Homo sapiens: one gene and its partners. The protein of the gene in region 7 purifies or fractionates together with the protein of the main gene of each other region. This does not show direct contact. Each region holds a gene or a part of one and is shown on either strand. Other genes may lie near its edges.

What was found.
Region 1: the proteins of LIG1 (region 7) and ARHGEF1 fractionate together in Homo sapiens (co-fractionation; one large-scale study listed by BioGRID). This does not show direct contact.
Region 2: the proteins of LIG1 (region 7) and POLD1 fractionate together in Homo sapiens (co-fractionation; one large-scale study listed by BioGRID). This does not show direct contact.
Region 3: the proteins of LIG1 (region 7) and USP48 fractionate together in Homo sapiens (co-fractionation; one large-scale study listed by BioGRID). This does not show direct contact.
Region 4: the proteins of LIG1 (region 7) and RFC1 fractionate together in Homo sapiens (co-fractionation; one large-scale study listed by BioGRID). This does not show direct contact.
Region 5: the proteins of LIG1 (region 7) and PIP4K2C fractionate together in Homo sapiens (co-fractionation; one large-scale study listed by BioGRID). This does not show direct contact.
Region 6: the proteins of LIG1 (region 7) and NAE1 fractionate together in Homo sapiens (co-fractionation; one large-scale study listed by BioGRID). This does not show direct contact.

The regions. Positions count from the first base shown.
Region 1 is NC_000019.10:41,889,684-41,893,183, forward strand, and holds part of ARHGEF1 (rho guanine nucleotide exchange factor 1), read left to right. Parts: intron 1-2,341; coding exon 2,342-2,440; intron 2,441-2,647; coding exon 2,648-2,690; intron 2,691-2,919; coding exon 2,920-3,166; intron 3,167-3,500. UniProt on the Homo sapiens protein: Seems to play a role in the regulation of RhoA GTPase by guanine nucleotide-binding alpha-12 (GNA12) and alpha-13 (GNA13) subunits. Acts as a GTPase-activating protein (GAP) for GNA12 and GNA13, and as guanine nucleotide exchange factor (GEF) for RhoA GTPase.
Region 2 is NC_000019.10:50,408,347-50,411,846, forward strand, and holds part of POLD1 (DNA polymerase delta catalytic subunit), read left to right. Parts: intron 1-360; coding exon of another isoform or gene 361-438; coding exon 439-555; intron 556-775; coding exon 776-889; intron 890-1,172; coding exon 1,173-1,320; intron 1,321-1,594; exon of another isoform or gene 1,595-1,678; intron 1,679-3,500. UniProt on the Homo sapiens protein: As the catalytic component of the trimeric (Pol-delta3 complex) and tetrameric DNA polymerase delta complexes (Pol-delta4 complex), plays a crucial role in high fidelity genome replication, including in lagging strand synthesis, and repair.
Region 3 is NC_000001.11:21,679,974-21,682,149, reverse strand, and holds part of USP48 (ubiquitin carboxyl-terminal hydrolase 48), read left to right. Parts: intron 1-1,315; coding exon 1,316-1,342; intron 1,343-2,176.
Region 4 is NC_000004.12:39,310,863-39,314,362, forward strand, and holds part of RFC1 (replication factor C subunit 1), read right to left. Parts: intron 2,070-3,500; coding exon 1,890-2,069; intron 688-1,889; coding exon 583-687; intron 1-582. UniProt on the Homo sapiens protein: Subunit of the replication factor C (RFC) complex which acts during elongation of primed DNA templates by DNA polymerases delta and epsilon, and is necessary for ATP-dependent loading of proliferating cell nuclear antigen (PCNA) onto primed DNA.
Region 5 is NC_000012.12:57,589,979-57,593,991, reverse strand, and holds the start of PIP4K2C (phosphatidylinositol 5-phosphate 4-kinase type-2 gamma), read right to left. Parts: upstream 2,801-4,013; 5' UTR 2,703-2,800; coding exon 2,529-2,702; intron 1,773-2,528; exon of another isoform or gene 1,675-1,772; intron 1-1,674. UniProt on the Homo sapiens protein: Phosphatidylinositol 5-phosphate 4-kinase with low enzymatic activity. May be a GTP sensor, has higher GTP-dependent kinase activity than ATP-dependent kinase activity. PIP4Ks negatively regulate insulin signaling through a catalytic-independent mechanism.
Region 6 is NC_000016.10:66,804,678-66,806,976, forward strand, and holds part of NAE1 (NEDD8-activating enzyme E1 regulatory subunit), read right to left. Parts: intron 1,350-2,299; coding exon 1,235-1,349; intron 1,150-1,234; coding exon 1,100-1,149; intron 1-1,099. UniProt on the Homo sapiens protein: Regulatory subunit of the dimeric UBA3-NAE1 E1 enzyme. E1 activates NEDD8 by first adenylating its C-terminal glycine residue with ATP, thereafter linking this residue to the side chain of the catalytic cysteine, yielding a NEDD8-UBA3 thioester and free AMP.
Region 7 is NC_000019.10:48,160,345-48,163,844, forward strand, and holds part of LIG1 (DNA ligase 1), read right to left. Parts: intron 2,008-3,500; coding exon 1,918-2,007; intron 1,164-1,917; coding exon 1,028-1,163; intron 1-1,027.

The DNA of each region.
Region 1 (3,500 bases), 6.3 Mb from region 7:
GAGAAGTGCCCGAGGCATGCAGAAAGAAGAACATGTCAGCTGCAAGACCAGAGGCTGGTCATCCGGACGCCAAACCATCAGATATGCAGAAAATTAGGAAATTGCAGTCTTTCCCCTGTCTACATTCTCTTTCCAGAAGAGTGGTTCCCCCGACAACCACATGCACGGAGACTCTGGCCCTCTGAGCAAGGGAGTCCCCTATTCAAGCCTTGGGGTTTCTAGAACACCAGATTGTGGACATCAGCCCAGGGATCGTGCTGACTACCATGTTCTTTTACAGATGTGGAAACCGAGGCCTAGAGAGGGTCAGGGACTTGCCTGAGGTGACCCCGGCGGCCTCTGGGCATTTTGAGGTTTATTCTCGCATAGCTCCCTCACCTCATCAGCTTGTGGGGAGCCGATCAGAGATAGCTGTGGTCCCCTGGGCAGCTTCCTGTTGGCCTGTCTTAGAATTTTGCTATATTTGGGGGGTGTGAAGAGTGGATATAGATGTGTTAAAACTGTTTAAAGTGGAGAAGGAGGACCGGGCCTGGTGGTTCATGACTGTAGTCCCAACGCTTTGGGAGGCTGAGGCAGGAGGATAGCTTGAGCCTGGGAGGTTGAGGCTGCAGTGATTGCACCACTGCACTCCAGCCTGGGCGACAAGAGTGAAACCCTGTCTTGAAAAAAAAAAAAAAGTGGGGCCGGGCATGGTGGCTCACACCTATAATCCCAGAACTTTGGAGGCTGAGGTGGGTAGATCACTTGAGATCAAGAGTTCGAGACCAGCGTGGCCAACATGGTAAAACCCCGTCTCTACTAAAAATATGAAAATTGGCCAGGCGCAGTGACTCACGCATATAATCCCAGCACTTTGGGAGGCTGAGGCAGGTGGATCACCCGACGTCAGGAGTTCAAGACCAGCCTGGCCAACATGGTGAAATCCCATCTCTACTAAAATAGAAAAATTAGCCAGGCACAGTGGTACACACCTGTAATTCCAGCTACTCGGGAGGCTGAGGCAGGAGACTCACTTGAACCTGGGAGGTGGTGGTTGCAATGAGCCGAGATTGCACCATTGCACTCCAGCCTAGGCGGAAAAAAAAAAAAAAAATTAGCCAGGCCTGGTGGTAGGCACCTGTAATCCAAGCTACTCCAGAGGCTGAGGCAGGAGAATCGCTTGAACCCAGGAGGAGGTTGCAGTGAGCCGAGATCACGCCACTGCACTCCAGCCTGGGTGACAGAGCGAGACTCCATCTCAAAAAAGAAAAAGGAGAAAAAGTCCCACTCCCATTGGAGTGAGTTCATTTCCCAGATGAGAGCCCCCAGGAGCCAGGACAGGTTGGAGTCCCCACTGTCACCCAGAACAGGGGCGGGCACTCAGGAAATGCTTGACGAATGACAGAGTGAGCCCCACTTGTCCACCTGTTCTTTCCAAGCCCTCAGTATGCACAAGGCACCACCATCTGGGACACAGATGGATCAACCTACAACACCCCTCAACACACACAAACCCTTAAGCTGCTCACAGTCTTTCCAGGCAGTGGAGTGTAGTAGAGACAGGCTGCCTGGATTCGAATCCTAACTTTGCCACTTAGTAGCTATGTGATTTTGGGTTTTATTTATTTATTTATTTATGAAACAGTCTCGCTCTGTGTCACCCAGGCTGGAGTGCAGTGGCACAATCTCCACTCACTGCAACCTCCATCTCCTGGGTTCAAGCAGTTCTCCCTGCCTCAGCCTCCCGAGTAGCTGGGATCACAGGTGCCCACCACCACACCCGACTAATTTTTTTATTTTTAGTAGAGACAGGGTTTCGCCATGTTGGCCTGGCCGGTCACAAATTCCTGACCTCATGTGATCCACCTGCCTTGGCCTCCCAAAGTGCTGGGATTACAGGTGTGAGCCACTGTGCCTAGCCTAGTTGTGCGACTAAGCTTGACTAAACTTCTTGAGCTCCGTTTTCTCATCTGTAAAATGGGGATAATGACGGTCCCTATGATTGAACACGTTAATGCATGTAGAGGGTGTAGAGCCGTGTCTGGTATACACTAAGCCGTCAGTATAGACAGTAGTAGTAGTTGTTGTCATTATTGCCGGGAGGAGACCATGATGAAGAACCACAAAGGACCATAGCACAGGATGGAAAATTAGAAAATGCTCATGGCAGCCCCAGGGAGCCTGCAGGGGAACCCAGGGCCTGGCTTTAGGGGTGGAGGTCAGGGAGTGCTTCCCAGAGGAAGTGGCAGTTGAGTCCCACAGCCATAGGATGGCCAGGAGGTGAGGAAGGCCCTTTTCAAAGGGAGAGTGTGGTTTGAGGCAGGGTGAGGGAGCGGAGAGTCATGCTGTGTGTCTCCCCCAGCTTTGCTGTCTGCATGCCGACATGCTGGGCTCACTGGGCCCCAAGGAGGCCAAGAAGGCCTTCCTGGACTTCTACCACAGCTTCCTGGAGAAGACAGCGGTGAGAGACCTTCAAGCTGCCCCAACCCTGCAATCCCTGTTTGGGCCTGCAGAGTCACCATGCGGTCCCCAGCCTCTGCCCTGAGGGCAGCTGCTGACCCAGGCCTTCCCCAGCACCCTCGCTTAGACCAGGGTTCCTGGCAGTCCTCCCGGCCTGCATCTCAGCACACCAAGTCCTCCTCTTCACCCCATTCTCTCTCTTGAGCAGGTTCTCCGGGTGCCGGTCCCTCCCAACGTCGCCTTTGAACTTGGTAAGGAGAAGGATGGGATGAGGGAGAGGTGTCTAGCGGGGACCACACCTCCCAGGAGGCCAAGGGGAGGGAGGCCGCACTCCCATGCTCTGCTCGGACAGCCGAGATTCATTCATTCCTTCTTGGCAGCGGCCTCAGGACGTGTGGCTGTTGGAGTCCAAGGGTGGGTGGGGACCGTGGTCCAAGCCACCAGGGAGCTGGACCCTAGCCCCCATGTGTGTCCCTGCAGACCGCACTAGGGCTGACCTCATCTCCGAGGATGTCCAGCGGCGGTTCGTGCAGGAGGTGGTGCAAAGCCAGCAGGTAGCCGTGGGCCGGCAGCTGGAGGACTTCCGTTCCAAGCGGCTCATGGGCATGACGCCCTGGGAGCAGGAGCTGGCCCAGCTGGAGGCTTGGGTTGGGCGGGACCGAGCCAGCTACGAGGCCCGGGAGCGGCACGTGGCGGAGCGGCTGCTCATGCACCTGGAGGAGATGCAGTGAGTAGGCCAGCCCTGGTGGGAGCGTCGCCCCTCCCCAGCACAAGGGCACCCGTGCTACCTCTGGCATGTTCCATCCCGTTTGCAGGTTCCCTCTTCAGGGTCAGAGTTCATTTCTTGGCACTGGGGGTCTTCCTCTACCCTGGTGTTTTAACTCACCTTGAATCCGAGTCTTCCCTTTCCAGCTTTGGGGTTCCCTTGTCATTTCTGGGTCTTGTCCATGATCTGGCACTTGGATCCCATCCTCCTGGATGAGAGACCTCCCTCCCTCTTATGACAGTCCTTCCCAATCCCTTCCACAGTGTCCCCTCTCTGTCTCTCTTCCCCCTGCCTA
Region 2 (3,500 bases), 2.2 Mb from region 7:
ATAAAATAAAATAGTAGATTAATTATATATATTATTTTTCTTTTTCTTTTTCTTTTTTTGACACAGGGTCTCACTCTGTCACCCAGGGTGGAGTGCGGTGGCATGATCTTGGCTTACTCCACCTCCTAGGCTCAAGCAATCCTCCTGCCTCAGGCCCCTGAGTAGCTGGGACCACAGGCGTGCACCACCACACCTGGCTAATTTTTAAAATTTTTTTGTAGAGATAGGGTTTTGCCATGTTGCCCAGGCTGATCTGAAACTCCTGAGTTCAAGCGATCCTCCTGCCTCAGCCTCCCAATGTGCTGGGATTGCAGGAGCGAGCACTGCTCCCAGCCAATGAATGATTTTTTTTTTTTAAAGGGTGAGGCCACAAGACAGGGCGGGGGCGGCATGGGAACTCCTAGCCCTGACTCCCGGCCGCGGCTGCTCCCCTCCCAGGTACTACGACGTCCCCATCGCCACCCTGGACTTCTCCTCGCTGTACCCGTCCATCATGATGGCCCACAACCTGTGTTACACCACGCTCCTTCGGCCCGGGACTGCACAGAAACTGGGGTATAGTGCCCAATTCAGCATGTGTCCCCCGAGGCCCATCTGGGCCTTCCCTTGGGGGGCTCAGTCTGGTGGGGGGCATAGGCACAGGCCCAGAGATAGTAGGGAGTGGAGGGGTGCTTGAGGGGCCTGCGTGTGCTCATGGCCAAGGCCAGGACCGTAGGGCAGAGGTGGGCTGGAGCAGGAGGGTGGCCGGCAGTCACCCCAACATCTTCCAACCCAGCCTGACTGAGGATCAGTTCATCAGGACCCCCACCGGGGACGAGTTTGTGAAGACCTCAGTGCGGAAGGGGCTGCTGCCCCAGATCCTGGAGAACCTGCTCAGTGCCCGGAAGAGGTGAGCCCTGGAGATCGCCTGCTTGGAGCTCAGACCTGTTGGGGCCTCTGGGCAATCCCTGTCCCTCACTGGGACACCCCAGGGCTGCCCAGCCACCCTGCCCTCAGCTGTGCGTGAATTAGCACAAGGCATCCCCTCCTGGCAGCTTCCTTTTGCCCCCTTGGCCAGAAGCTTCTGTGCAGTGCACAGTACGCCCAACCGTACATGGCACTCACTTCCAGAAAGGAGCCCTGACCAATGCCCAGGTGCCGCCTGAGTGTGCTTTCCCCGTGTTCCCTCGCAGGGCCAAGGCCGAGCTGGCCAAGGAGACAGACCCCCTCCGGCGCCAGGTCCTGGATGGACGGCAGCTGGCGCTGAAGGTGAGCGCCAACTCCGTATACGGCTTCACTGGCGCCCAGGTGGGCAAGTTGCCGTGCCTGGAGATCTCACAGGTGGGCACTCGGGCCCCTGGAAGGCAACTGGGGGCAGGTGGGCCCCCTGTGTAGGAGACCAGGGCTCCATGTGGGGGACCTGTATCCAGAGGACTGGGCACCCCAACTCACTGGCCTTCTAGAGAGAGGATGCCAATGTGGCTTGAGCAATTGGTCCATTCCTTCACTCAGCAAATGCCTACTGAGCACACACTGTGGTCAGGGCTCACTCTGTGCCCTGGGGATACAGAGGGGAACAAAATGGATGAGAGCTCCTGTCCCTGTCATCTTGCAGCCCAGTGGGGACACTGACAGGTCTGTGTAAACGTGTTTAGGACACAAGTGGCGCTACGAGCTTTGCAGCCGGATAAAGCAGGAGGTGCGGACTGTCGGGGAGTGATGGGGCTGGGCGGGACTCACCCCTCTCAATAGGCGACGCTCACACAGAGGCCAAGGGACGTGGGGAGGGAAGCCATTCACCGTCCCCACGGCAGCGTCCCGGTCTGCCTACCCACGGCAGCTCTGCTGCTTGAACAGAAAAACAGATTCTTTGAAACCACAGAGGGCCTGAGTTTCCGAGATTGCCAAGCTGGGGTCAGTGCCCCAGCTCCTGGCATATGAGGGCCTCGGAAGGGTCTTCCTGTCCAGCCTTCTCCCCTGGGACTTGAGTCTTGGCCCATTCCAGGCCAGTAGTTGTGCTGCTCTGCTTGGTTACCTCTAGCCACGGGGAGCTCCCTCTCTGGCTGGGCACTGCGCCACTTTTCACAGGGCTCTGGGTGGAAGGCTTGGATGAATTCTCAGTGGGTGGGGCCTTTGCACACACCCACCCACCCGCAGTTCTGGGGGTCCCAAAGACCACTTAGGTTCAGTGATTCACTAGAAGTACTCAGAGAGCAGAAAAGCTGGTTCTCATGGTTATGATTTAATACAGCAAAAGGACACAGATTAAACTCAGCAAAAGAAAGAGGTGCACAGGGCAGGGTATAGGAGGGACCAGGCGTGTCTTCCAGTTGTGCTCTCCCAGTAGAGTTGCCAGGCTGGCCCTCCTTCCTCCCAGTTTTGATGCGTGCCTGCACACATGCAGCATTGCCAACCAGAGGCTCTCACCCAAGCTTTGGGGTCCAGGGTTTTTCTTGGGTGTCAGTCCTATAGGCATGGAGCACCCTGTGACTGGCCTTAGTGACTCCATCATCCCCAGGCCCCTCAGCAACCCCCAGAGGTCAAACTGATACTGCATGGCCCAGGGCCCTACCATAAACCATGTTAGTGTCAACTACCTGGTGTGGTTCAAAGTCCCAGGTACACAAACACCTTTTTTTTTTTTTTTTTTGAGACAGAGTCTCACTCTCTCACCCAGGCTGGAGCGCAGTGGCACAATCGTGGCTCACTGCAGCCTCAACCTCCGGGACTCAGGTGAGCCTCCCACGTTAGCCTCCCAAGTGGCTGGGACTGCGGGCACGTGCCACCTATTTTTGTTATTTTTTGTAGAGATAGGGTCTCGCCATGTTGCCCAGGCTGGAACAGAGACACTGTTATCAGGCGGGATATTCTAGGGGCTTAGACTACCAGGAGCCAGGCAAGAGCCAGACCTTTCTTTGCACAAAGTGAATCGCTCACTGCATGCTCCCAACTCCCCTCTGCCTTTCACAGTCCCCGGCTGCCTCCCCAGCCTCCTTGGTGGAAAGGGGTGGCTGTGTGGACATCAGGCTCTAGCCCTGAAGCAGAGGCCAGGCCAAGAGAGCACAGCTTGGCCCTCCCCTGGGGCTGCCTCTTACCAATCCTGTGTCTCTGTCTTTTCTCTCTCAGCCGCTTCCCTCTGTCACTGTTCTGTTTCTGTCTCTTGACCTCTTTCCTTATTTCTGTCTCTCAAGCTTATGGGAGCAAGAGGTGGAATAATAAAAATGCAATGAATTGGCTGGGCGCGGTGGCTCACGCCTGTAACCCCAGCACTTTAGGAGGCCGAGGCGGGCGGATCACGAGGTCAGGAGTTCAAGACCAGCCTGGCCAACATGGTGAAACCCTGTCTCTATTAAAAATACAAAACATTAGCCAGGAGTGGTGGCAGGTGCCTCTAATCCCAGCTACTCGGGAGGCTGAGGCAGGAGAATCGCTTGAACCCAGGAGGCAGAGGTTGCAGTGAGCCGAGATTGCGCCAGTGCGCTCCAGCCTGGGCAACAGAGCAAAACTCCGTCTCAAAAAAA
Region 3 (2,176 bases), on a different chromosome or scaffold from region 7:
TGATCTGTCATGCACCGTCTGCCATGATACTGTGTGAGGATGTGTTCTTCTTCTTAAACATTAAATCAAGAAAGAATCAACAGTGGACCCAGTAAATAGCAGATCAGCCTAGGATAAGATGCCCTAGAAGATGGTGAAGGGAAGTCTCAGAACTACTGTTCTTCAGCAGGCAGCGAAGACACCTGATCCATATTGGAGTGGTGGGATGCGAGCTTCAGGAAGGGATGCCACAAGGAAAAGTGGAAGGGATGATGACTGTCTTCAAGAGGTTACAGGTCTTTAAGAATTTACACGTGAATTGGAGATAAATACAGAGAAAATGAAACACATCAGTAATTCAGTAGTTACCAAGCCCAGAAAGACCAAGTCATACCATGTAGTAAATATAACCAAGGTGCACCAAGGCATTCAACTGTGACTAGTATTAATGGCGTAAAAAGTAATGCCAGCGCTGGAGACTGGCTTAACAACAACAAACACCACTTCATCAGGAGGATGGGTCGGGGCAGGTGCTATGTAAGTGGTAAAACAGCTGTTTGTATCCTTCACTGAAGAATTTATTAGATTTTTATCTAAAATTATGAAGTAGGCCAGGCACGATGGCCCACTCCTGTAATCCCATCACTTTGGGAGGCTGTGGCGGGCGGATCACTTGAGGTCAAGAGTTCGAGACGAGCCTGGCCAACGTGGTGAAACCCTGTCTCTACTACAAATACAAAAATTAGCCAAGTGTGGTGGTGGGTGCCTGTAATCCCAGCTACTTGGGAAGCTGAGGCAGGAGAATTGCTTGAACCCAGGAAGCAGAGGTTGCAGTGAGCCGAGATCATGCCACTGCACTCCATTCTGGGTGACAGAGCTGGACACCCTCTCAAAAAAAAAAAGTAAATAAAATTATGAAAAGCATGTTATTTAGAAATAGGCTAAATACCAGAAGAAGCTGCTGTGTGAGTCAAAAGTGACTCCTTCCAGAACTTGGGAATGGGAGGAGGAAGGGGAGAGAGACAGCTCCAGAGGAGTCAGTTACATGGCTTCCTCCCAGGCCACTCCTAGAGTCGTGCACTAGGTGTGCCCTAGTTACAAACCTTGTCCTGTCAGTATTTGACTTTTTAAATGATGCATACGTATTGCTTTGATAAAAACAGAAACAAAGATTGTTCTGAAATTAGTAACATCCGTAACTTCAAAGATGATTATTACAGGTGACAAAGGTAATCAAAAGTTATTTTAAACTTTTGTCTTTAAGCATTGAAATGATATTACTGTCTGTCACGACAATCTTTTCAATTTGGAATTCTTCTTTTTTTCTTTTTTTCAGTTTGTATGCCAGAAGAAGGGTTTAAAGGTAAGTTACATTTGTCATGTTTTGTTCATGAATGTCAGAGTCATCCTGTAATTTTCTGTTAAAGCGAAGGCTATAATTTGATTTTAAATTTTAATCCAATCTGAGTCTCATGACTGAAATTAATTTTAGTTAAATGCATTTCTTACTCAAGCTTCTTCATTATCTTTTTCAACACTCAGGCCTCAAATGGGGCCTCAGCTGGGGCTTTTGTGTTAGAACTGTTTCTTGCCAGATGTCCATTTGGCCTTCCCTTTCTCATTTTATGGGAGGTTGGGAAATTAGCTAGTGGCATTTCAAGATTTATTTTTAACCTTTTCCCAGTTCTTCCTATCAAGTCCCCTCCTAGAGCAAAACAGTGTGTAACTATTAAGAATTAGTGGCACAAGAATTTGTCAGGTTTTATCAAGTCCAGTGAAAAGATTTAATTAATCACTTAGCATTAAGGCATTTGTTGGATTATTACTTCAAGAGGAGACACGGTGGTGCTCGTACTACATCTGGGCCATGTAGTTGTGCACACCGATAATATTCAAGAAGTCATCAAATACAGACCTCTGACGTTTTCGGATTTTCCTGTTGCTGTCTTGATTCTTTGCTGGCCACTCCAGAAGCCCCTGGCAGGTTGTGATTTTCTAAGGAATGACTTTGAATCACATACCAGCTATTCCTTGCTAAAGCAAATGAGAGACAAATCTACTGGCCAAAATAAAGTCTTCCTCTTGCTGCAGCTGTGTTGTCTGCATGCTACCATTACAAAGGGACTCCTGATGGGGTCAAAACAAAGCAAAAAACGTCTTTATGAAAAATGGTCATTGGCCGGGCATGGTGGCTCAC
Region 4 (3,500 bases), on a different chromosome or scaffold from region 7:
CGGGAACAGTGGCTCACACCTATAATCCCAGCACTTTGGGACGCTGAAGTGGGTGAATCACTTGAGGTCAGGAGTTCAAGGCCAGCCTGGCCAACATGGTGAAACTCCGTCTCTATTAAAAATATAAAAATTAGCAGGCGTGGTGTCAGGTATCTGTAGTTCCAGCTACTCAGGAGGCTGAGGCAGGAGAATCGCTTGAACCCAGGAGGCAGAAGTTGCAGTGATCCGAGATCACACCACTGCACTCCGACCTGAGGGACAGAGCTAGACTCTGTCTCAAAAAATTAAAAAATAGTAGTAATAATAGTAATATGGAAAATAAGGAAAGTTTGATAAGTAGATATGTTATATGCAATATACTGTCCTTTCTCTACTCATATTCCCTGACAAAGATAAGGAAAAACAACAAAGTAGACATCTTGAAGCAGAGTCTTCCAGCTCAAAAGGAACTAAGGTGGTCCATTTGTGGTAGACAGGGATGTTAATCTTTCAGCCAACAAGCCTGTATCCACCCAAGACATATGTCTATGAAATTAAAAAGTTAATATACACCAACTTAAATCACATTCATTTTATACGAACCTCAGTTTCAACTGCTATTTCATACTTGGATTTCTTGCCTGGCATAGTCCGAATCAGATTCAACAGGCCATCTTCATCAATAATTTTTGTCCCCAAGGCTGCGGCCTGTTGATTAAAAATGTAAACCATCAAAACTGCATCCTGCATCCTACCATTCCCTTCTCTTACAAAAAAAAAAATTCTAGGGCCTATTAGTAGGTGAAAAACCACATTCGTAAATTAAGATAACACTGGAATTAAAAAAGAAAAACAAAAAATAGCACATTCATTGAAAAAGTAACATTGAAAAGAAAGAAAATAACAGATACATTCCCTAAGAGTAGCAGGTTGGCATGGGAAGTGGTCCATTTCTACTTTTGTGGACTGCTTTACCTTTCCTCCCCTAGAAAGGGGCAATGGCCACTAGGGCCTAAGACCAGCTCTTCATACCTTCTCCCATATTTAATGCATATGGCAGACATTTCCCCCACCTTCTTCCCTGCTGATGGAACTCCAATGTGTCCTTCTTCAAGTGATGAATGATGACTGGTCCAAGGCAACCAGAAACGTCTTGGTTCTTCCCAACCTCCCATACAGCTCTGAGTGGCCAGGTGACAGCTCTGGCCAATGAGCCTTATGTGAAATTCTATAAGACATGTTTCTGGGAAAACTCTCGTCAGGCCAGTCACAGCTCTTATGACATACTTGCCACTGTTCCCTTTTCCTGCCTTGAATAAGAATTTAAATGCCTAGAGCTGCAACTACCTTGCAACCACAAGGCAACATGCATGAGGACAAAAGTTAACACAATAAGGACAGATGGAGGAACCACATCGTTGAGATGCCGAACTATCCCAGCAATACCTCCAGAATTCTTGTGAGAAAAATTAGCAGCTGTTTAATCCACGGTTAATCAGATATTCTGCTGTTTGGAGCTAAACACAATCCTACCCAACAGGCCGCTGATTCTTTTTCTAAAAACACCAATTTAAAAAAACCTAAGATGGTGTATACAGTGGCATATATAGGAATACTTCGGACTGGAAGAAAAAGAAAACTGCATTTGTTTCTATCTTCAAAAATAAAAAAAGACTTAAACTTAAATACACTAAAAAAAAGTCAAGTAAACAGGAACTATGCCTTCCATTGGAAAACCAAAATCCTGGTGTCAGAGCCAATAACACTTCTGTGGAGAAGAAATAATGTAGGCAAGAAATTACTTTTCTATTTCTTTCCTTCATTTAACTCTGAGTAAAGGGCAAATCACATCAAGAGTGTGCCAAGGCAGGCAGGAGGTGTCATGGTGTTGAGAACAAAGCAGTACCCACCTTATCACTCTTGGACTGTCCACTATCACGACCCATGACAAGATAATTTGTTTTCTTGCTGACATTTCCTGTTACTTTTCCCCCATAACGTTCAATTAGAGACTTGGCCTCATCTCGTTCAATAGACTCCAGCACGCCTGTGATTACAAATATAAGGCCTTCCAAGCAATTTTCAGCTCCCTAAAAACCAAAATGTTCAAGCAGAGAGGAAATTACATGGTAGCTTTCCAAAGAAACATTTGGCATCAAAACTGCAGGAAGTTGATTTTTCTCATTTCACATCATAAATAACCTTGGCATGGAAAGTTTGCTGGAAATTTACAGCAAATAAGCACCACCTGAAATTAGATCCTAAGAAATTTTGATATGGCTAACGTTTAATAAACTTACAAAACAAGCAGTGAAAAACATACATCCAACACTGTTAGCAAAGCTATTAAAATTACCCATTCATACTATTTTCCATTATGCCCTCTTCATATCTAAACTACTAGTTAACTTGCATAACTATAAATAAACAACCAAATGCAATCCATCTGTAGAAACTCTTGCTATTCAGGAAACTGCTTGTTCTTAAGAACTTTCCCAACAAGAATTTAATAGAAGCAGGTATACTCCTATCATTTTGATGTTTCTGTTAATGTTTCGAAACAATGTACTTTAAAATCAGAATCACTTCTTATCATTTTCAAATACTTCTGATGCTTTTCACCACATTAGTGATCAGAAATGAGGTCTAATTCCCCAATCCCTGCCCGCAAGAGCTAAGTAGGATCTTAACTGTAAGTTGAAGGGAGTTTTGCCCGAACTCATGGATTGTACAAGAACAAACTGCTGCTGGGTTGGATGGTCTGCCAATGGATTGTGGTGTGGCATATCTGAAGGCTACTGAATGCAACTTATAATGCTTAATAAAAAATTTTTACTGTTTTATGGGAAAAAAGGGAAAAAAGGCAACTCTTGCTATTGTTAAAAAGGGAAAGTTTTGATTCTAAAAAGCTAAGCAAGTGTGAGCTCGTGCCTTCCTCTCTGCTCATTACTCTAGGATAGTAAATCTAGCAATCTTCTAGTAACTTAAAGGCAAGATCGTATTATCTCTGGATTGGAAAGATAACTCTCATAATGTATAATATAAGAGATACTTGCCAAAGAGAGCTGGATGGAAAAGACATTAAATCTTAATTGGAACTATGTTGAGTTATATATTTTTGCAATGGTTCAATAAAATTATACAACCAAACAAAATGAAAATTATACATGACATTCCAAGTTACTTATTACTCTTTTAATAGAGAATTGAGATTAATAAACTTAAAATGGGCTTGAAAAGCAGCAGCCAACCAAAATTCAAAGACTGCCTCCATGTAAGTTCAATCCTTCACCATTCAGATGAAGAATCTTTCTCGGAAGACAAAAAGAAACAGCTATGAAGGTGCTTGGAAAGAAAAGGTTTGACTAACAATATCTCAGGGTCCCTTGAAGCCTTTATGGGTTCTTGGATTGAAATGATCTACTGTAACACTACAGGAACTTAACTACTTCTGAACAAACTCAAAACAACCCTGGAAAAATTGCACATGCAAGCCCCTATATCCCATATCCCAAACATCT
Region 5 (4,013 bases), on a different chromosome or scaffold from region 7:
AAGAAGGGTGTGGAGAGCTACCCATACACTGTGTCTGGGCAGCAGTCATGCAAGGGCCACTCAGACCTCATTCCTTTAAAAACACTGGCTATGCATATGCTTGACAGAAGTGAGAGAATGTGTCTAACCCTTCTGCTGCCCAAGAAGGACTACAGTAAGCAACCCTCACACACAGCCCCCAACACGCCCACCCCCATGGAACTTCATGCTCACAACAGTCATTTTATATTAGGCTAACCCTGTAAGCAACTCAGGACTATTTTTAAAGCTGTGAGAAATTCTAGAAAAAAAAAAAAAAAAAAAAAAAAAAAAAAAACTCTGCAAGCTCAAGGCAGCTACATGTTCCATTAGAAAAAGAAAAAAAAAGGCATTTTAAAAATGCACAAGAGTGTTAATGGGATTCTGTGGGGCCAACCACAGCAAAAAGGATAAATGTCCATATCCTGCAAAAGGCATCTCTTTGCAAACAGGACCAGTCTTCCTAGACCACTCTGACCCAGTTGTTTGCAGTAGGCCCCCACCTGTCTAAGGTGTAAGGTAAAGGAAGAGCAGCTGATTTCAGAGCGAATGCAGGCAATCAGAGGATATGAGCTCATTAGGCGTCTGTTCCCTAAAGCCAAACTAATCCACAGCCCAAAGGACACAAGCATCACATGCTCTCCTCGGCCCCCAGGATCTGCAGTCTGCTAATTCAGGGTAGAAAGGGAGCTCTAGTACTTAAAAATCCTGAGCCGTGCTTTCTCCTTGGTGTTGCTACAGTACCTTTCACCTGCCTTTGTTACTGCATGACTCTAATCACTAGTTTATGTAAGTTCTCCCATCTAGATTGTGAGCTCTTCAAGAACAAGGGCTCATTCTAGTCGTCTGCATCTTTCAGGTGTCTAACTAGCACAATGTTTGGCACACAGTGATCCTGACATGTCTATTAATTGAATAAATGAATGCCTTGCCTATCCTTACTAGATCATTCCACAGAGGCTATGAACTGCAGTCTAACCTAAATCACACACACTGCAGTGCAACCAACTCCTCCCGTTCTCAGTAGAAAAGGAGGACAGAACATATCCCTCCAGATTAAAAAAAAAAAAAAAGCCACTTGAGACTCCCAGCCTAAAATTCAGCTATAGCTCCTCCTGCCCCCTCCTCCCCACCTGCTAAGCAAGCTGAATCATCACTAAGACATATGTTCAAGGAATTTCTCCATTCCAAACACTTGAAGTAGATGTGTGTTGGCAGAGGGTGGGGTGCTGGGGCTAAAGTATATATACCTAGTGAAGCTGAGGTAGGTCTTACATGTAACTCCCCCAATCCTTAACAAGGGAAAACCCTCCCTGTTAAGCATCCCACAGGGAATGGATGAATCACCTGGAAGGTACATATGAGAGGCAGCCCTACCTCCATCAGCCTTCCCCATACCAAGTGCCTTCCACTGAATACTCACTAAGAGCTTACCACCCAGAGAGCCACAAATCCAAAAGAGATCCGACTGGCCACAAACAACATTCTTAATTTTTGGTTAAGAAATTCTTTACCACAAATTAAAAATGTGACAAAACGCGTATTCTTCCTCACAACTTCCATCTCCACAGCCTAGCCATGACTATATTCAAGAACGCTGATTTCGAAAATATTCCGTGTCACATTCAAGATAACTGCATTTCTCCCACTCCAGACCTGACGGAAGATGGGCAATGGCTGTGCTTCTTTCAGCTGAGGTATCCTCAGGAAAGGGGATGGAGGTCTCCTTGGCCTCCTCCTGACTCCCAGAGCAGTTTCCTGCTTCAAAAGTTCACCACCATAGTGACCTCAGGAACAGAGCCCCTCAGCCTTCTCTTTGGTCAACAATCGCCACCACCTACACCAAACACGATCGCTCTAGCCAGCGATAAGGATGCAGTTAAGACCAAAGGCATATATACATAAGTCCTGAGAGTGTGCAACTTCTAGCTCAGGGTGGGGTAGCTTCTCTAAAATGCTGTACCTCTGGAAGGGAAAGGAAGGGACAAGCAGGATTAGAAAGCCCAGGAAACCTGGAGCTTCCCCGAGACAAAACCAAGATTCAAAAGCCAAGGACCGGGGCTGGGAAGCAAGGTGGAAAGCAAAGTGAAAGAACCTTTTCATCCATCTACTCCCCTCGGCCCCTCACCCTCCACCTACACTCTCACCAACAACCACCCGAGAAAAAGCCACTCCCCCTAATGTCCTCCCCGCTTGCGCCCGGTCCTGGCCAGTCCGCGTAGCCTGAGGCTGAAGCTAGACATGGCAGGAAGGAGTCAAAGCACAGGGAGCTGGATTTCACGGGGGGAAGGTGGAACTAGAGTGGAGCAGTAAAGAACTGTTGGGGAGAAAAAAGTCCACAGTCAGAAAACCTGCTGGGGGAACACCTGGGGTTGGTGGGCAGGGACCAAGACAACCCGGGGGAGGGGAGTGGCACTGCGTGGGGCTCCGGAGGCTGGAGCCTGGAAACAGGGACGCCTCGGAGCCGAGGGGTTTGGACAGGGCTGCGGGGGTCTAGGGCTGGTTCTCACCGAGTGGGCTACGCCCCACAGGAACACACCCACCAGCGGGTCGGCCGCCCGGAACACCTTCACCTTCTGCTGCACGAAATGCTTCTTCTTGGTCTTGGAGGCGAAGCCGAAACCTGGGCCGGGGCCTGCTGTCGCCGCCGATACCGTGGCTGGTGGGACCGAGGAGGACGCCATAGTCTCCCGCGCAACCGACCAAGTGGAAGCCGGAGCCGGCAGCTATCCAGGCGCCCGACCCCGGAAGCGGCGCTCACCTGCGCTGCTGTCACGTGACCGGAGGCCGGACAGCGGACGCGCGAACAGGGCGAGGCAGGACGGGGCGGGGCGACGCTGGCCCCGCCCCCCGGCGCCTGCCTGCCTGCCCCAATGTCCGCTCAGTGTGTGGGCTCACCTGGCGTGCGGGATCCCTGTAAGCTGACGAAGCAAGCGGCCCGCGAGGCCCCTCGAACTGTCAACTAGGAGACCGTGGTGCGGCCTGGGCTGGCCTGATTGACTCCCAAGGTCTAGGGCTTCTTTGCTGCAAAGTGGCCGCCTTCCGGCTTTGCCCAGTTTCTAATGAGTAACCTCGGACCTGATGCTAATGCGAAAGCATTCTTACCGAATGGGGGTTGGGAAGGGGAGGGTTTTGGAAACCCAAAATTCTTACCAGTGGTCTCAAGCGTCTTGAAATTCATTCATTCATTTAACAAGTATTTATTGTGCACTTAGTTGTACTAGGTCCTGTTCTAGGGGCTGATTTTCCTTTTATTGAAGCAGGGTATAGGACAGTGACTGCCCCGAAGTAGTTGGGAGTCTAATGGCACTGGCTGGCCAATGGAGATCAAGTTTGCAGTATGCAAAGTATGAGCTATCCTAGAACTGTGTATGAAGCAAAGACAATGATACAAAGAAAGGAAGTGTAGCTGGTCAGGGAAGGCTTCAAAGAGGATAGAGACTTTACTGAGTTTGGAAGGGTGGGTGGAGTTCAGGAATAGAGGTTAAAAGGCTGTCTAGACAAAGAGAACAGCATACAAAGACATGGAGACAAGAAAGAACGAAGCCGGGCGCGGTGACTCACGCCTGTAATCCCAGCACTTTGGGAGGCCGAGGCGGGAGGATCACCTGAGGTTGGGAGTTCAAGACCAGCCTGGCCAACATGGTGAAACCTCGTCTCTACAAAAATACAAAAATTAGCCGGGCATTAGCCGGGCGTGGTGGCGTGAGCCTGTAATCCCAGCTACTCAGGAGGCTGAGGCAGGAGAATCACTTGAACCCAGGAGGCGGAGGTAGCAGTGAGCCGAGATCACGCCAAGCAGAGATCACGCCAAGCAGAGATCACGCCACTGCACTCCAGCCTGGGTGACAGAGTGAGACTCCATCTCAAAAAAAAAAAAAAAAAAGCCGGGCATGTTGGCAGGTGCCTGTAGTCCCAGCTACTTGAGAGGCTGAGGCAGGAGAATCGCTTGAACCCAGGAGGCAGAGGTTGCAGTGAGCCCAGATCATGCCATT
Region 6 (2,299 bases), on a different chromosome or scaffold from region 7:
CATATGTTGAAATCCTAACCCCCAGTGTAATTGTATGAGGATAGGGCCTTTGGTAGGTGATTAGGTCAAGAGCGTAGAACCTTCATGAATAGGATTAGTGCCCTAAGAAGAGACCCCAGAGACTTCTCTTGCCATTTTTTTTTTCACCATGTGAGAACACAGAAGAGAGAGCTGCCTATGAACCAGGAAATGGGCGCTCACCAGACCTGACCATGCTGGCACCCTGATCCCAGACTTCTAGCCTCCAGAACTCTGTGACAAATTTTTATTGTTTATAAGTCTATGATATTCTGTTACAGCAGCCCAAACTGACTAAGACAAGGGGGAAGTAGAGTGAGGGAGGGAAGTAAAGGGAGCTTTTATGAAAGACATGTCATTTTTGAGTTGGGTCTTGAAGAACATATAGGTTTTGGACATGCAGAAAAACATATTTTTAAGGCAAATAGGCACAGAGGAGCAAAGATCTAGGAGCAGGAAATCAAAGGGCATCCTGGGGGGAAAGCAAGTAATATGATAAAACCAAGGCTGGAAAGGCCGAGTGGAACCAAAACACAGGGTTTTTTAACGTCAAGCCAAAGTCCTTGGACTTGCTTGGAGGACTGTTGTAGAGTGTTATGTATATTGGTGGGGCAGAGGGTTAGTAAAAGGACACAATCAGAGCTATGCTTTAGAAGGATTAATGACTCTTAAGGAGTTTAAGTTGGATGGCAGTGGGAGAGATGGAAGGCAGGGAGACCAGTATAGGGGCAACTGAATAAATATCCTAACCTGAGCAACATAGTGGGACCCTGTCTCTACAAAAAATTGAAAAATTAGCCAGGCTTACTGGCACATGCCTGTAGTCCCAGCTATTCAGGAGGCGGAGGCGAGAGATCACTTGAGCCCAGGAGTTTGAGGTTGCAGCGAGCTATGATGGCATCAATACACTCCAACCTGGGCAAAACAGTGAGACTGCGTCTCAAAAAAAAAAAAAAGAAAGAAATATAACATCCTGCTTCACTGACCTCCCTAATTAAAATAGCTAGACGACAAAACTTTGTATTAAAATAGTAACTGTACTATGTAACAACAGGTGAGTCTTCTCATATATGGAACTCACCCCCCAAGAATGCAGCAATGGTATGTGGCTCAGCAGCTCCATATCGGCAACTAAAGGAGACCACAGAGACATGAATTTTGATTAGCCTTATGACAGGTGTGGAATCATCTCCTAGATACCCTAAAAAATACTCACAATTCGTGGACATAATCATCTTTCACCATTACAGATAAACCATATTCCTGAAGGAAGCCAGTGAGACAAGACTTCAACTTTCCTATATCTTCTTCAACTTGATAGTTAGATACTCCTAAAAATAAAAGTTAGTTTTCATTAAAATAAATGTGATTCAAAATTAATGGCCAACTCCTTTATTTAATCTAGTTTCAGATGTTCTAGTCAAAATATGTATGAAACTGAAGAACAAAAATAACAAAGTATGAGACCAATATTTGCACATATCACAAACCTATAATCAGAGACCAACTAAAACCTAGTAAAAATTTGAATTTAATTAAATCTTTATTAATTGCATCATATTCACTGTCTAGAAAAGCATCTGGCACATAGTGCTTAATAATTATTTGATAGAAGAACTTAATGAATGAGAAAGTAATGTCCTACTTATACCCTTTATAAAAGTTATTCTCCAATTCTAAAAGACTAAATGATAAATGACACTGAGGACATAAAGCTATTAATAATAGGTAACTTTTTTTTTTTCTTTTGAGAGAGAGTCTTGCTGTTACCTAGGCTGGAGTGCAGTGGTGCAGTCTCGGCTCACCGCAACCTCTGCCTGCCGGGTTCAAATGATTCTCATGCCTCAGCCTCCCAAGAAACTGAGACTACAGGAGTGCGCCACCACACACAGCTAATTTTTTCTATTTTTAGTTTCAGTGTTGGCTAGGCTGGTCTCGAACTCCTGGCCTCAAGTGATCCACCCGCCTTGGCCTCCCAAAGTGCTGGGATTACAGGTGTGAGCCACCATGCCTGGCCAATAATAGGTCACATTTATTGAGCATTAATAGATGCTGGACACTGTTCTAAGGACCTTATATCTATATTAATTGATTGAATCCTCAAAACAGTCCTATGAAGTATGTATAGTTATCTCCATTTATAGAAGAGAAAACTAAAGCACAGAGAGATTAAGTTACTTAGCTCATAAGTGATGCTGTATGACTTCCAAAGCTAGGTCATAAAAAGCCCTGTACCTTCCACTTGGGTTTTTTGGAATGTTAACTGCAGAAGCCAACTGAC
Region 7 (3,500 bases):
AGGCTGGGAAAGAAGGTAGTGGCCCAGAGGTGGAAGTGCACCTGGTGGGTGTGGGAAGCCAGGATGGAGCGAGCTGAGGAGGAGCTGTGGATGCGGCTGCAGATGTGATGGGCGGGGGAAGAGAGGAGCAGCAGGAGGGGCCTGGGAGGTTTCCACAAGGCCTGGCTTTGGCCTGTGGTGGTAATACCAGGGGGTTTGGGCAGGGAGTCACAGGACCTGACCTCACCACTGACAGAATAAGCAGCACCACGCTTTGGACATCATCCACAAAGCAATGAACAAGCATTAAATGACTTAAACAGGGGAAGAGAGTGGTCCAATGTATTTGGAGAAGTTAAAAAGCCCTCTGACCACAGGAGAGGCTAGATATACTTTTGAACCCTTATTTTTTTGCTTTTTTTTTTTTGAAGCAAGGTCTTGCTCTGTCACCCCGGCTGGAGTACAGTGGTACAATCACAGTTCACTGCAGCCTTGAACACCCGGGCTCAAGCGATCCTCCTGCCTCAGCCTCTCAAGGAGATAGCACCACAGGCATGCACCACCACACCTGGCTAATTTTTAAAACATTTTTTTGTAGAGATGGGGTCTCGCTATGTTGCCCAGCCTGGTCTCGAACTCCTGGCCTCAAGTGATCCTCCCACGTTGGCCTCCCAACGTGCTGGGATTACAGACGTAAGCCATTGTGCTGGGCCTTGAGCCCTTGTTTTACCATCAGGCATTATTCTCAGATCTGTATGTAAATCGACTCATTTCATCTTCCCAGTCACCCTATGAGGAAGGTGTTACCAGGAGCTGCATGTTACAGTTGAGGCATCCAAGACCTAACGTGGTGAAGGAGCCCACCCGAGGTCCTAGGGCAGGGGCAATTAGGACCAGGTTGTGTCTGCCCCCGACACAACCAGGAAACACATCTACCTCTCCCGGGCAATTTCTCCAGAATTCTCCTGAACAGCTGCTGCACTCTGTTCCAAAGGTTAATGGGAATTAGTTTCTTCTGGTAAAAATGGGCAGGGTGATGGGGACCTACCTGGCCTTTAGCAGGGCTAAGGGCTTCATCCTCCTCTTCCCCTTCGCTGCCCAGGACCCGGGCCGCCTTCCTCCCTGGCCTCTTCACCGGAGAGTCACTCTCGGACACCACTCCATTCCACTCCTTCAGTGCCGCCCTGGAAGGTGGGGAAATGGGGGTGTAAAGGGGCGACTACAGCAGGCAGAGTGGGGGCACTGCCCGCAAACACTTTGGTTTCTTTGCTGTTTCCTTCCCTTCCTTTCAAGCATCCAATGAACATTTTCTGGTTGTCTCCTCAGCAAATCTCATCATTTCATCCATCAGTGCATTAATCCACCCGCCCACTCATCCACTCACCCACCCATCACACATCTCTGGAAGTCTCCAGAGTGCCTGCCCTGTGATGGGTGATGCTGAGGAGCAAATGGAGTCCCTGCCTAAGGTTGCCATTGGTCTCCAGCATCTATTGGGATGCCTTTTTTTTTTTTTTTTTGAGATGGAATCTTGCTCTGTCGCCCAGGCTGGAGTGCAGTGGGCCGAGATCACACCATTGCACTCCAGCCTGGGTGAGAGTGAGACTCCATTTCAAAAAAAAAAGAGTACTGTTGTCTTCTACTTAGATGAGACAGCATCAAGACGTGGCCAGTGGCCAGCGGCCAGCTTCTCTGCATTATGGAGAATGTCTGGTTCTAGAACGAGGCCAAGACCTGCAGAAACAGAGACGTACAGACAACTCCGAGGCCCTGGATCCAGCTGTGCCTGCAGCTGCTCTTGCTCTTGGACTTCTGGCCACCTGGCTGAAAAAGTTTTTTGGGCCCCAAGACATTTTGCATTAGGTTTGAACACTTGCAACCAAGACAATCCTGACTGCTAAAGGAAAAAATTCACCATATCCCAGCCCTGTGACATACTTTGGAGGGGGCTCCGTCTCTCTGCTGCTATTGGATGCCTCCTTCTCAGGCTTCTTTGCTTTACCCTCTTTCTTGGGGTGGAAAAATGACCTAGAGGAGCATAAAAGGGGGTAAAAAAAGGAGAATAACAGCACCAATACCCTGCCTATCTATGCTGTATCCTATAACTTCCTTTTTTTTTTTTTTTTTTGAGACAGAGTCTCGCTCTGTAGCCCAGGCTGGAGTGCAATGGCGCAATCTCAGCTCACTGCAAGCTCCGCCTCCTGGGTGCATGCCATTCTCCTGCCTCAGCCTCCCAAGTAGCTGGAACTACAGGCACCCGCCACCATGCCCAGCTAATTTTTTGTATTTTTAGTAGAGATGGGGTATCACCGTGTTAGCCAGGATGGTCTCGATCTCCTGACCTTGTGATCTGCTTGGCCTCCCAATGTGCTGGGATTACAGGCATAAGCCACCGCGCCCGGCCGCATCCTATAACTTCTAACACCATTTCCATCTCAGCACATAACAGAGAATTTCAAATAAGCCCTTTAACTTAACTGATAAGGAAACTCAGACTCAGACAAAGGAGGCAACACTAATTTTTCTGCCCTAACGCACCTGCAAGATATGATACATCCCAAGTTTTATTCAACAAATATTAACTATGCACTTTTTAAATCTTTTTTTTTTAGACAGACTCTCGCTCTGTTGCCCAGGCTAGAGTGCAATGGTGTGATCTCGGCTCACTGCAACTTCTGCCTCCCAGGTTCAAGCGATTCTCCTGCCTCAGCCTCCCGAGTAGCTGGGATTACAGGTGCCCACCACAACGCCCAGCTAATTTTTTTTGTATTTTTGGTAGACACGGGTTTTCTCCATGTTGGCCAGGCCAGTCTCAAACTCCTGACCTTAGGTGATCCACCCACCCTGGCCTCCCAAAGTGTTGGGATTACAGGCATGTGCCCCCGCGCCCAGCCTAAAAAAATTTTTTTTTTTGAGATGGAGTTTTCACTCTTGTTGCCCAAGGGTGGAGTGCAATGGTGCAATCTCGGCTCACTGCAACCTCGGCCTCCCAGTTTCAAGTGTTTCTCCTGCCTCAGCCTCCTGAGTAGCTGAGATTACAGGTGGCCGCCACCACGCCCGGCTAATTTTTTTCATTTAGTAGAGAAGGGGTTTCACCATGTTGGTCAGGCTGGTCTCGAACTCCTGATCTCAGGTGATCCTCCTGCCTCCCAAAGTGCTGGGATTACAGGTGTGAGCCACTGCGCCCGGCCTACCTAAGCACTTATTATGTGCCAGGGCCTGTTCTGGGCCTGAGGGGTTTGGCAGTGACCCAGACACACGAAGTTCCTGCCTTCAAGAAGCTAACACTCTGGTGAAGGGCAGAAATATTAAGCAAACAACTAAATATAAAATGTTGGGGCCTGGCATGGTGGCTCACACCTGTAATCCCAACACTTTGGGAGGCCGAGGTGGGCGGATCACGAGGTCAGGAGATCAAGACCATCCTGGCTAACACGGTGAAACCCTGCTTCTACTAAAAATACAAAAAAAATTAGCTGGGTGTGGTGGCAGGCGCCTGTAGTCCCAGCTACTCAGGAGGC